Linked DNA regions of Homo sapiens. The protein of the gene in region 3 purifies or fractionates together with the protein of the main gene of each other region. This does not show direct contact. Each region holds a gene or a part of one and is shown on either strand. Other genes may lie near its edges.

Region 1 (3,932 bases), on a different chromosome or scaffold from region 3:
AATTCCTGGGGGAACTCCCTGAGGCAAGACTGCGCCTGGCAATTTGTAAGAAGGGGGCTGGTGCGACCTGAGCAGAGAGCTAATGGGAGGGTGAGGGAAGCCAAGGGAGATGGGGTGGGAGGTGGGAGGAGTCTTGCGGGACAATGGGAACCCAGGGGAGGCGTTAGAGCAGGGGAGGTGCATCGCGCACTGGGATTTAGGTCCCAGCAAGGTCGCTGGGGGGATGCCTTTTAGGGAATGGACTCTGTGGTCAACTACTCCTACCTGAACTGCCCCCAAAGCATTTGCTTTTCCCTCTCCACAGTCAGGACCAGTGTAACCTTAGACCCCTAATACTGCCATTTTTACTGTTGAGAACACCGAGAAGTAGTAAATGCAGAAAATCTAAAGTATAGTGCCTAAGACAAATTGGCGCCTCAAACCTAATTTCTAAATAAAATTAATAAATAATATTGCAGAAGTGGGGAGCAGGTCAGCAATCCAGGAAGAGGCACTGGCAGGAGCAAGAGACGGAATTTGAGCCTACTCGCGGTTATGAGCCTACTCGCGGTTACATTTTGGCCAAACTCAATTCCTGGTCTCTCTGAGCCTCGGTTTCCCTACCTGGACTGCGCGGTGTGTGTTAATTTCTCTGCCCCATTTATCTCCCCTCTCCTAGCCCCGCCCCAGCGTCACCAGTGGGACGCAGAGACTCAGGACTAGGAAAGCACTTTTAAAGCGTTAAGGGATTGCGAAGAGCTACGGAGAGGCTTCCTCAGGGCTATACTGGGTCCACCTCCCCTCATGGACCGCGGGCGCGCTCTGGCGGCCGGGCCGCTCCAGGCTGAAGCCGCCGGACCACGTGTGTAGTCGCAGCTGCCATCTTTCATCCGGGCATCGGCCATCTTGGTAAAGGCAATGTTCTAGATTTTCGCCTCTGCCCGCCCCTCCTGGTTCATCAACATATTAAATGAGCGTAGGGAATGAGGGCGTATTAAGTGTCCTCTTTTTGAAGAGACAAAGAAGTGGCTGACTACCCTGGCTTGGGTCCGAGGCCCAGCCATCTTTTTCTTTACCAAAATGGCGGCGGTACTGAGGCGCAATGAGTGCGCGCCGCCAGGAGCTCAGCGCGCAGGCCCCATGATGACGTCACGGAGGCGCGACCGGGCCGGCGCTGGGGTAAGAAGGTAGGAGCGTCTGCGGCGCGGGCGGAACCCGGGTTCGGGGAGCAGAGGCGCGGGGCGGGGGCTGCTTGGCCTGGGACCATCCCCTGGGAAGGCTGGAGGAGGGGTGCTGGGAGGCAGGAGCACTTCTGGCGTCCAGTCTGAACCGCACCTAGTTGGGGGCGATGCCCATTTCCAGACTAGACGATTGAAGCCCGACGCGACAGCATGTTCGAGGCCACCTGGCCCCGGACTGCCCCTAGGCAGCTTCTGGTCTCGAGAGGGACAGAGTTGGGCGCGGACTCCCCCGGCCTCTTGTAGGGGGATTAGTGGTGGGGGACTTCAAAAGGGATAGCCGGGAGGGCTGCTTAGAGGAGGCATTGTTGAATTTTGTATTCTGTTATTTTACCTTCACATCCGTGGGGTCTTAATCCCCATGGGTCTTGATTCGCTTCTAAGTGTGCCCCTCGCCCAGCCTGAGCCACTCCCTGGGTACCGCCTGGGCTCCCAGCTCCTGCCATCTGGGGAGTCCACCTCCTCACTAACCCCAGAGGGCTTGTGTGACCCATAGATTGGGCTTCCCGGCTCTAACGCCCTCCACACCTTCCCATCTCCCTGGAATACAAATCGCCCCCTTTTCCAGCCTACCTCCTGCATCCCGCGTGCAGGCTGCGCTCTCCCCCACTCATTCAGACTTTTCCTTAGATGTCTCCTTTAGGAAGCCCTTTGACCCAGGCTGGGTCAGAAGCCCTCTCCGGGCTTCCCCGGCGCCCTGCGTGTCCTTATTAGGACTCTGATTGCATGTGTTGGCTCTTCTCTGGGAGTCCCATGCAGGCAGAAAGCTCATTTGTGCCACCTCTTTCCCCAGCATCGCACACGTATTAGGTGCCCAGTACATATTTATTGAATGACGTGTGCAAGTGAGTGAGTGTTTACTACACAGAGAAAAGTGTCTGTATTTCCAGCTTGGGCTGTCATAACTAATACCACAGACTGGGTGGCTTAAACAGCAGAAATTGCCAGGCACTGTGGCTCACACCTGTAATCCAGGCACTTTGAGAGGCCGAGGCAAGCGGATCACTTGAGGTCAAGAGTTTGAGACCAGCCTGGCCAACATAGTGAAACCCCGTCTCTACTAAAAATACAAAAATCAGATAGGCATGGTGGCACATGCCAACATGGTGAAACCCCATCTCTATAAAAATACAAAAATTAGCCGGGCGTGGTGGCAGGTGCCTGTAATCCTAGCTGCTTGGGAGGCTGAAACAGGAGAATTGCTTGAACCGGGTGGGTGGAGGTTGCAGTGAGCCGAGATTGTGCCACTGCATTCCAGCCTGGGTGAAAGAGCAAAACTCCGTCTCAAAACAAAAAAAAGCCCCAACGTGGAAACAGCCCAAATGTCTAGCTGTGGACAATGGATAAACAAAATGTGGCGTATCCATGCAGTGGAGGAATATTCAGCCATAAAAAGGAACGAAGGGCCAGGCGCAGTGGCTCAGGCCTGTAATCCCAGCACTTTGGAAGGCCGAGGCGGGAGGATCACTTGAGCCCAGGAGTTCAAGGCCAGCCTGGGCAACATAGTCAGACCCTGCCTTAAAAAAAAAAAAAAAAAGCTAGGCATGGTGGCCTGCACCTATAGTCCCAGCTACTTAGGAGGCTCAGGTGGGAGGATCACTTGAGCCCAGGAGGTCAAGGCTGCAGTAAGCCGAGATTTCGCCACTGCACTCCAGCCTGGGCGACAGAGTGAGACCCTGTCTCCAAAATAAATAAATAAATGTACTCTCACACTGTGTGGCCTTTTGTGTCTGGCTTCTTTCACTTAGTATTGTGTTGTTGAGGTTCAACCACATTGTATCATGTATGTATTGGTGCCTTGTTTCCTTGTTTCCTTTTTTTTTTTTTCTTTTAAGAGACAGGGTCTTGTTCTGTTGCCCAGGCTGGAGTGCAGTGGCACAATCATAGCTCACTGTGGCCTCAGCCTCCTACGCTCAGGCGATCCTTCCACCTCAGCCTCCTAAGTAGCTGGAACTACAGGCACAAGCCACTGTGCCTAATTATTTTTTATTTTGTAGAGACGGACTCTTGCTATGTTGCCCAGGCTGGTCTTGAACTCCTGGCCTCAAGCAATCCTCCTGCCTCAGCCTCCCAAAGCACGGGGATTACAAACGTGAGTGATCGCACCCGGCCTGTGATTCCATTGATATGGACTGAAATGTCCAGAACAGGGAAAGCCACAGAGACAGAAAGCAGATTGATGGTTACCAGGGGCTAGGGGAAGAGGAATAGGGAGTGACTGCTGATGGTGATGTGGCCTCTTTTGGGGGGTGCAAGTGTTCTGGAACTAGACAGAGGTGGTATTTGCACAACGCTGTGAATATACTTAAACACTGAATTGTACACCTTTTTTTTTTTTTGAGATGGAGTCTCGCTCTGTCGCCTAGGCTGGAGTGCAGTGGTGTGATCTCAGCTCATTGCAACCTCCGCCTCCCGGGTTCAAGTGATTCTCCTGCCTCAGCCTCCCGAGTAGCTGGGATTATAGGCATGTGCCACCACACCCAGCTTTTTGGTTTTTTTTGAGAGTGAGTCTCACTCTGCCGCCTAGGCTGGAGTGCAGTTGCACGATCTCGGCTCACTGCAACCTCTGCCTCCCAGGTTCAAGCGGCTTTCCTGCCTCAGCCTCCTGAGTAGCTGGGATTAAAGGTGTCCGCCACCACACCCAGCAATTTTTATTTATTTTTAGTTGACACGGGGTTTCACCATGTTGACTAGACTGGTTTTGAACTCCTGACC
Region 2 (3,500 bases), on a different chromosome or scaffold from region 3:
ACAATTAAATGTCATGTCACCCACCAGAATGCTGAAATGCGGCTTTTCCTAAATAGTGGATTCAGTAGATCTGCTAAGCACTGGAGATGTATTGGTGAGTAAAAAAGACCAAAATCATCTTGCCCTATGGAAGAGAACAAATACATAGTATTAATTTTTCCTCTGTAAGTGCCATGGGGAACAGTAAAACCAATGAGGGAAATTGAGGGATGTGGGGCTGTGTCAGTGCCCATGGAGGAGCCCACATGGGTATTTTCCCTTTTTTTTTTTTTTTTGAGACAGGGTCTTTGTCGCCCAGGGTGGAGTGCGGTGGCACAATCTTGACTCTCTGCAACCGCCGCCTCCTGAGCTGAAGCAATCCTCCTGCCTCAGCCTCCTGAGTAGCTGGGACTACAGGCATGCGCCACCACACCCAGCTAATTTTTGCATTTTTGTAGACAGGGGGTCTCACTCTGTTGCCCAGGGTGGTTTCAAACTCCTGGGCTCAAGTGACCTGAATGTCTCGGCCTCCCAAAGTACTGGTATTATAGGCATGAGCCACCACACCTGGCCCCTTGATGAATATCTTAATCAACTTTTACTCTCATTTTTCTGAATATCTTTTTTTTGTTTAACTTGTGGTTCTTGAATTTTTGTTGTGATTCTAGAGCCAATTTACTATCAGCAATTTCTAAAATCCCTACAAGTGACTTTTAACTTTGTGCAAAATCGGAGGCTCTGAAAAGCCACTTAATGGCTTTATAGTTTGTCCATGAATCATTGTTTTAAAATGACAGCTATCAGTGTGGCGGGTTTGGAATTTTAAATGATGAAAAATCAAATGTAGAGCAACAGAATCTAAGCTCTGTTTATTATGTGCATTAAAACTCATACAAGTTACAATTTTCCATTCTTTGCCTCATTTTATTGCCTTAAATATATCAGTGGTCAGTAAACATCTGAAATTCTGTAGATGAGATTGAAACTTTGGTTTTGGAAAAACATGCAGTAATATTTAGGCTGACTGGCCCATTTAGTAAATGAAGGGGTTCCAGTTTAATTTTTTTTTTTTTCTGGTGAAATCATGGTTATAATTCACTCATGTGGAAACTTAAGATTTGTGAACTGTCTCTTAGATGTTCGGTCTAAGAAGCAGATCACTTCCTATAATGTAATCACTTCTTCGAACAACAACAAAAAAGGGCTTCTAAAAATTGTGGTGAGTTTATTTAGCAAAGCACTATAAACCGAGGAACCTTTCTCCAAAAGTTCCAGGGGCAGAGAGGAGCTTTAGAATTCATACGGAATGCCACACATTTCCAGAGCATCTTAGGTTAGAGATGTGAGCAGGCTAGCACAAAGGGAAAAGGCCTACTAGAAAAACCTTGTTAAAACAATCGAGTTTAAGGAAGCAGTGAGGAAAAGGAGAGTAAGAAGTTGTCCCGGGTTGTTCAGCTAACAGGAACATGTAGATTTGAGACTCGATCATCTAAGTTTTTGTAGGCTGAAAGCAGTTGCAAGCCACAGATGTTAAGAAATTAGGCAAATGGATATTTTTAGTTAACCTACCTTGATGTTTTTATCATTTCTTTAGGCAGTAAATGGTCTTTGACTGAGTAGTACATGAAGTATCTTTCATTTGGGATTTAGTTTTATTGAGCCGCTTCAGTAATTCTGAGGCTGGGTGGTGGGTACATAGGTTTATTGCATTAGTCTTTCTTACCTTTTATGTCCTAAAAATACACATAATATATTTTTTAAATGTCCTTCCTGCCTGTTTCAGGAAAGCAGCTTTGGGTTGCAAAGCTGTTCTTATGAATACAATCTTCCCATCTCATTTCTTATTTCTGCTTGTGCCAGCAGTTTGCCTTATAACGCTGACTGCATGTGGAGTCTAGGTGCTGTTTAGCCAAGATGCTGTTGTCACTCACTTGCTTTTTGGTAATAGAAAGTACACTTACCTAATGTGTGCTCCTCCTTCATACTTCAGTCTGACACTGGAGGAGCCTTTAAAGGTTTTAAAGGTTTGGTGGTACCTTCTGGAGGAGGACGCTTTTCTGGATTTGGTAGTGGCGCTGGAGGGAAGCCTTTGGAAGGACTGTCGAATGGAAACAACATAACCAGTGCCCCTCCCTTCGCCAGTGCAAAGGCAGCGGCAGATCCCAAGGTAGCCTTTGGTAAGTAGCTCCCATCCCCCAGCCGCCTGTGTAAGTATCATCTATGGAAAATAGCTTTACAAAGATGTTTTTCTTATAGCTACCCTGTGTCTTGGAACTGTGTGAGCAAAACCAGGGTGATAATGAAAGAGATGGAACTTAGGGAGGTGTCGGTTACTTACAGAGTAAGTGGGTAGAGCACAGGCTTTTGATCCAAAACATCTCAGCTTTGTTCTCAGCTCTGCTGGCTACCAGTTGTGTGACCCTGGCCTCTAGGCCTCAGAATGTTCAATTTTGAAAGGAGAGTGGCCCTCAGAATTGACCTAGAGTCGAGAGAGAAAAGAAAATGCTATGTAGACCCTTTGTGTGCCAAGGGCTTTCTGTGTGCCTCGCACCAAACTGGCTACTGGGAACTCAGATGCGGTTCTCCGTGGCCAGGGTGCCTCCCACGCTAGGTTTGTTTGGGTATGGGATGTGTTGATTGCCTGATCCTGTTTTGAGGGAGTCAGTCAAAAACTCTTGGAATTAGCAACAGAGAATAGGATCACGGGTTAAAAGCTTGGAAATGATCCTGACTGGTTGGGTTGTATTTAGCTGATTATTCTGAGAGTATATACTGTTTGATTTTAATTTGGCAGAATGTTTAGTGTGATGTAAAATAAGTGTTCTCTGTTAAGTTTTGTTGTTGTTGTTGTTTTTTCTAAGTTGGAGTCTTGCTCTGTCACCAGGATGGAATGCAGTGGCGCGACCTCTGCTCACTGCAGCCTCCGCCTCTGGGTTTAAGCGATTCTCCTGCCTCAGCCTCCCGAGTAGCTGGGACTACAGGCATGCACCACCATGCCCAGCTAATTTTTGTAATTTTAGTAGAGACGGGGTTTCACCATGTTGGCCAGGATGGTCTTGATCTCTTGACCTTGTGATCCACCTGCCTTGGCCTCCCAAAGTGCTGGGATTACATCCGCGAGCCACTGTGCCCGGCCTCTGTTAAGATTTTTAACTACAGCCATCCCCTAGTATCCTGGGGATTGGTTTCAGCACCCCCTTGGATGTTCAAGTCCCATAGTCAGACCAGCATAACTCTTAGATAGGAAAAGTGAGTGTTCGTATCCACTGGTTTCTCATCCCCAGAGTACTGCATTGAGACAGGGTCTCGCTCTGTCACCTAGGCTGGAGTGTATTGGTGTGGTCTTGGCTCACTGCAGCCACAACCTCCCGAGCTCAAGTGATCCTCCCCCATCAGCCTCCCCAGTAGCTGGGATTATAGGTACACACCACCACACTCAGCTAATTTTTACATTTTTTGTAGAGATGGGGTTTTGCCATGTTGCCCAGGCTGGTCTCAAACTCCTGAGCTCAAGCGATTTG
Region 3 (3,500 bases):
AAAAATTAGGCATGACGGTGCATGCCTGTAGTCCCAGCTACTCAGGAGGCTGAGGTGGGAGGATCCCTTGAGGCCGGAAGGGGGAGGTTGCAGTGAGCTGAGATCACACCACTGCACTCCAGCTTGGGTGACAGAGCCAGACCCTTGGGTGACAGAGCCAGAAGGAACGTTTGGGAATGGAATCATCGTGTTGGTCGATCTGCAGATGTTAGTGATTGTGAGCGTTAGTTTTGCACCCATTGTGGGTTCTCACCCCACTTGGAAAACTGGTGGCTGTGCCCCATTTCATGGGTGAGGAGACTGAGGCTGGAAGAAGTCCAGGCCTGTGTCTGTCCTGTAGCTATCGACCAGGCTCTCAGACTCCAGAAACAAACCTCAGTAGGAATCAGAAGTGTTGGCCGGGCGCGGTCTGCCTGTAGCTATCGAGCAGGCTGTCAGACTCCAGAACCAAACCTCAGTAGAAATCAGAAGTGTCGGCCGGTTGCGGTGGCTCATGCCTGTAATCCCAGCACTTTCGGAAGCTGATGTGGGCGGATCATCTGAGATGAGGAGTTCGAGACCAGCCTGACCAACATGGGAGAAACCCATCTCTACTAAAAATACAAAATTAGCCAGGCGTGGTGGCACACACCTGTAATCCCAGCTACTCGGGAGGCTGAGGCAGGAGAATCGCTTGAAACCGGGAGGCGGAGGTTGCAGTGAGCCGAGATCGTGCCATTGCACTCCAGCCTGGGTGACGAGCAAAACTCCATCTCAAAAAAAAAAAAAGAAAGAAATTAGAAGTGTTAATTCCAAAAAAGTTATCTTCCTCCATTATAAAGTAAGATCTGGAAGGTCAGGGAGGTCTTTGTACCGTTCTGATGCCTCAGTCCATGGCTCCTCATTGTGTCTTCCTCTTCAGCTGGAGCTGCGAGGGTGTCCAGGAGGGGTGAGTTCTGCTCGGAGGGCCTGCCGAGGGCATTCCTTCCTGTCCTCCAGCATGAGAGGGACAGTGTGGGGCCCCTAGAGTACAGGGAAGACCTCCTCATAACTGAAGAGATGCGAGTCTGAGAGTCTTTATTGGCTCTTTTGTAGGAATCGCTGCAGGTCTCTTTGGTCCTTGGAGCCAGCCCGTGAGGCCGGGGGCAGGCTCTTGCTCTCTAAATGCAGTCACTCTTGGAGGAAAGGACGTTATGTTGGATTCAGTGTTAGTAAAGAGACTCATGTTTGGTTGGGTCTCTGTTGACCTTGTACTCTGTGCTGCACCTCTGCTTACAGAATACCTCCCATCCATGCCGGTTCGTGACTGCTCACCCGTTTCAGTGATCTGAGAAGGCTGGCCCTGAAAGAGTGGTTACTGCTCCCGTGCAGTTTAGAGCTTTTCCTGCACCTTGACTTGTCCGTTTCACAGTGAGGACACCAAGTCACAAGAAGGTCACTAGCCTGTAAGGTTGCGTGACTGCTCAGTGGTGGGCTCAGACTTCTGACTCCACAGCTGGCGCTCCAGCTGTCAGGAACGTGCTCCAGGTGTGACGTGTGGACACTCCCCACTTGCAGCGTCCTCCACAGTACCGAGAGGAGGGTGCAGTGTGGTGGGAGAAGCAAGGGATCATGTTTTCAGAGTGTCCGCCACTAGCCCTAGGGGAATGTATGACTCGCTCCCAACAGAGGGCAGGATTCTCGGGGAGGGCCGGAGTGCGTTTCTCTGGACGGAGGAGCAGAGCAGCTTGGGGCACGGTGTGGGAGCCCTCCTTAGGGACCTCATGGGTCACGTTCGCCGTGGCTGCGCCACTCCTGTTCACTGCCAAGCACCGTGATTGCTCCTTGGATTTGCTCCCCTGGGGTTTCCTGGTCTCCTTGATGGTTTATACAGTGAGCAATCTGAGGCCACACACCTGTAATTTTCACAGTTATAGCTGGAGGTGTGGTGGTGTATTTGAACTTAATGGAACACCTCTTATTCCCTTCACTCTGAAGTTGGCTTCCTTGCCTATAAAGTTTGGTGATAAACCTAAGAAATACACCTGCTGTGCATTTTACTGCGTCCGTGATGAAAATCCCTCAACTTCACAGCCGCTCAGGCCTCGTGACCCTGCTTTCAGAGGGAGCCTTTTTCCTTTTCTTCCTTATCTATACTTCTCTCATTCCTTTACCATTTATATTTTTAATATGGGAAACTAGACATCCTAGAAGTTTCTCAGCTTCCAGATTCTGTTACTGCAGACTGTTACTGATTCAACAATATGGTCCTTTTCCTGATGACATACGCCACATTCTTCTGAAGTACAGATGGTCTCCAAACTACCATGGTTTGACTTACAATTTTTTGACTTTACGATAGTGTGAAAGCAGTATGCATTCTATGGAAACCATACTTGACGTTTTGAATTTTGATCTTTTTCTGGGCTAGCAGTATGCCTCCAGATACTCTCGAGATGCCAGATAGCTCCTCGTCAGCCACATCATGAGAAGGGGGAATGACCCCTGCTCTACAGGGCACTGTGTTGCCAGCTGAGTTTGCCCAACTGTAGGCTAATGTAAGTGTTCTGAGCACATTTAAGGCAGGCTAGGCTAAGCTATGATGTTAGGTAGATTACGTGTATTCAATGCTTTTTTTTTTTTTTTTTTTGAGACAGAGTTTCACTCTCCCACCTGGGCTGGAATGCAGTGGCGCGATCTCAGGTCACTGCAGCCTCCGCCTCCTGGGTTTAAGCAATTCTCCTGCCTCAGCCTCCCGAGTAGCTGGGATTACAGGCACCTGCCACCATGCCCGAGTAACTTTTTGTGTTTTTAATAGAGATGGGATTTCACCATGTTGACCAGGCTGGTCTCCAACTCCTGACCTCAGGTGATCCACCCGCCTTGGCCTCCCCAAGTGCTGGGATTACAGGCATGAGCCCCTGTGCCTGGCCTCAGTGCATTTTTGACCTAAGTATTTTCAATTTACAATGGGTTTATTGGACATAATCCCATCCTAATTAAGGAACATCTGTAGTCTACAAAGAGATACTTGCCAGTGTTCATTTAGCTCTGCTGTACTTTAAATAAAAGATATGTGTATCTTTAGTTCAAAGCTGGTGCCTTGGAACGGTGTCAAACATGAGAAGAATGTTCCAACAGCAAGATGGAATCATTGTCTTGCAGTGTTGAAATTAGACCGGTGGTGGCCAGGCGCAGTGGCTCACGCCTGTAATCCCAGCACTTTGGGAGGCCGAGGCGGGAGGATCATGAGGTCAGGAGATTGAGACCATCCTGGCTAACACAGTGAAACCCCGTCTCTACTAAAAAAAATACAAAAAATTAGCCAGGCGTGGTGGCGGGCGCTTGTAGTCCCAGCTACTCAGGAGGCTGAGGCAGGAGAATGGCATGAGCCGGGAGGCAGAGCTTGCAGTGAGCCGAGATCGCGCTACTGCACTCCAGCCTGGTGGGCGACAGAGTGAGACTCCGTCTCAAAAAAAAAAAAAAAAAAAAAGAAAAGAAATTAGACCGGTGGTGTTTTCATCCTTTTTCCTTGAGAATAA
Region 4 (2,534 bases), on a different chromosome or scaffold from region 3:
TATCTGACTTCTATTGGGCTTGAGCTAATGATCACCTGTTCACAGACATCAAAAGCAGAGCCCCAGAGCCAGCCCCATCTCCTGAGAGATCCATACCACCCACCTTGGTCTGGTACAGGGCTTCAGCCTCAGCCTTGCTCCTCTGGGCAATCTCCTCGTACTGGGCACGGACCTCGGCAATAATGCTGTCCAGGTCCAGGTTGCGGTTGTTGTCCATGGAAAGGACCACGGACGTGTCGCTGACATGGGTCTGCATCTGGGACAGCTCCTGCAGGGCAAATGTCTCACATCAGCCCCCCCAGGAAAGCCTTCACTGACCTGATACAGGCTCAAGTAGGAGCAGAGCTGGCATTCACAATGTGTAGGAAGGGGAGAGACAGGTAAAGTTCTAAGGAGAAATCAAGTGGTTGTGACAGTTCAGGATGGAAGAGCAATGCTTCTAGTCTTTACTGGTCCCCAGGAACCATAAGCCACTCTAATGCAGTGAGTGCCGGTGTGTTGGAATGGAAGGGAAGGGAATGGATCCATTTCACCAGAAAAAAAATGCTAGACAGCAATGAATTCTATTCCAAGCACTCTTTAGATCTAATCACCCCGTCTAAGACCAAGACCACATCTGGTTCTAAGAATCTCCCAGTTGAATTTCCCACTTCAAACCTTTCTATGCATGACCTTGATGAGAACCCACTGCCCTAAAATAAGGGAGCTGGAGTCCTTTCAAAAAACTGTGAATCCCAACCAGCAGCGTCACAGATGGGGGATTCCCTTTCCCTGGATGGAGGGGAGGATGGAGCCCTCACCGCATCATAGAGGACCTTCAGGAAGTTGATCTCGTCATTAAGACTGTCCACCTTGGCCTCCAACTCCACCTTGTTCAGGTAGGCAGCATCCACGTCCTGCAGAGGAGTAAGGAGGATAAGAGATGAGGAGCAGGAATGCCAGTAGGAGGACGGGTTACTAAGTGACACCGACAGGTGTTCTCAGCAGCATTTAGGAAAGACTACTCAGCAGCAGGGGAGCTGGTGGGAGACCAATTATTTTATATATTCTTCCCTAGAGCCACCTGAAGACATGGAAGTTGATTATCCAAATAGGCTATTCTAACAGTATGGAGATCTCTCAAAGAACTAAAAATAGAACTACCATTGGATCCAGCAATCCCAGTGCTGGAATTCCACTCAAAGGAAAAGAAATCATTGTAACAAAAGGATACCTGCACTCATGTTTATCGCAGCACAATTCACAATAGCAAAGATACCAAATCAACCTAAGTGTCCATCAACAGATGATTGGATAAAGAAAATATGATACATATACACAATAGAATACTACTCAGCCATAAAAAGAGAATGAAATTATGTCTTTTTGCAGCAATGTGGATGGAACTGGAGGCCATTATCTTAAGTGAAACAACTCAGGCACAGAAAGACAAATAACACATGTCCTCACTTATAAGTGGGAGCTAAATCATGTGTACATGTGGACATAGAGCATGGAATGATAGACAATGGAGACTTGAAAAAGGGAGGGCTGGGAGGGGCTGGATAATGAGAAATTACTTATTGGATATAATGTATGTTATCCCAGCAATGGATACTCTAAAAGCCCTGACTTCACCACAACACAAACTATCCACGTAACAAAATTACACTTGTACCCCATGAATTTATAAAAATAAAAATCAGCTGGGTGCGGTGGCTCACAACTGTAACCCCAGCACTTTGGGAGGCTGAGGCAGGCGGATGACCTGAGGTCAGGAGTTTGAGACCAGCCTGACCAACATGGAAAAACCCTGTCTCTACTAAAAATACAAAATTAGCCAGGCGTGGTGGTGCATGCCTGTAATCCCAGCTACTCGGGAGGCTGAGGCAGGAGAATCGCTTGAACCCAGTAGGTGGAGCTTGCAGTGACCCAAGATCGCGCCATTGCACTGCAGCCTGGGCAAAAAGAGTGAAGCTCCATCTCAAAAAAAAAAGCAAATAGGCTTTCCTCCCAACCTTAATTTCTTAGAACCTGGTTTGGTTACCCACTTTCCTTGACTATATAGATCTAGATAGTTCCAAGTGAAGCAGGGATGAGGCAGAGATGGACCAAACCCATGACTTCAGCCAAAGACCACTCCCCAAGGGAAGGGGCACCCTGAAGGCACTCCCTACCATCCTTCGTCTCTTACCTTCTTTAGGACCACAAAGTCATTCTCGGCTGCTGTGCGTTTGTTGATCTCCTCTTCATACCTGGGGGTGGGCACGGGGAGAAAAAGACAAAAACCCACAGTGAGCTGGTGTTTCTCAGATCTCTGCTGCTTGTTTTCAAGCATTTCCAAACAAATTTGGAAATATCCACGTAATTAGTTGCATTTCCCATATTCATACAGATATTCATTTAACCTATATTCATTGAATATAGGAAGTACCCGTTTAGGCCAGGGTTTATTCAGATACATGAAAACCAAACTTTAAAGAGACTGTTTTCGATAGAAAACCCAGCAATGATGTAGTTGATTTAATGTCCCTGAAAGGGCTGTCCTTTTGGCC

What was found. The genes of interacting proteins can lie anywhere in the genome.
Region 1: the proteins of ATG4B (region 3) and CCDC124 purify together in Homo sapiens (affinity purification with mass spectrometry; one large-scale study listed by BioGRID and IntAct). This does not show direct contact.
Region 2: the proteins of ATG4B (region 3) and NUP50 purify together in Homo sapiens (affinity purification with mass spectrometry; one large-scale study listed by BioGRID and IntAct). This does not show direct contact.
Region 4: the proteins of ATG4B (region 3) and KRT4 purify together in Homo sapiens (affinity purification with mass spectrometry; one large-scale study listed by BioGRID and IntAct). This does not show direct contact.

Annotation. Positions count from the first base shown.
Region 1 is NC_000019.10:17,931,883-17,935,814, forward strand, and holds the start of CCDC124 (coiled-coil domain-containing protein 124), read left to right. Parts: upstream 1-1,132; 5' UTR 1,133-1,166; intron 1,167-3,213; exon of another isoform or gene 3,214-3,309; intron 3,310-3,932. UniProt on the Homo sapiens protein: Ribosome-binding protein involved in ribosome hibernation: associates with translationally inactive ribosomes and stabilizes the nonrotated conformation of the 80S ribosome, thereby promoting ribosome preservation and storage.
Region 2 is NC_000022.11:45,173,925-45,177,424, forward strand, and holds part of NUP50 (nuclear pore complex protein Nup50), read left to right. Parts: intron 1-1,969; coding exon 1,970-2,156; intron 2,157-2,317; exon of another isoform or gene 2,318-2,458; intron 2,459-3,500. UniProt on the Homo sapiens protein: Component of the nuclear pore complex that has a direct role in nuclear protein import. Actively displaces NLSs from importin-alpha, and facilitates disassembly of the importin-alpha:beta-cargo complex and importin recycling.
Region 3 is NC_000002.12:241,644,193-241,647,692, forward strand, and holds part of ATG4B (cysteine protease ATG4B), read left to right. Parts: intron 1-3,500. UniProt on the Homo sapiens protein: Cysteine protease that plays a key role in autophagy by mediating both proteolytic activation and delipidation of ATG8 family proteins. Required for canonical autophagy (macroautophagy), non-canonical autophagy as well as for mitophagy.
Region 4 is NC_000012.12:52,808,583-52,811,116, forward strand, and holds part of KRT4 (keratin, type II cytoskeletal 4), read right to left. Parts: intron 2,235-2,534; coding exon 2,174-2,234; intron 897-2,173; coding exon 801-896; intron 269-800; coding exon 104-268; intron 1-103.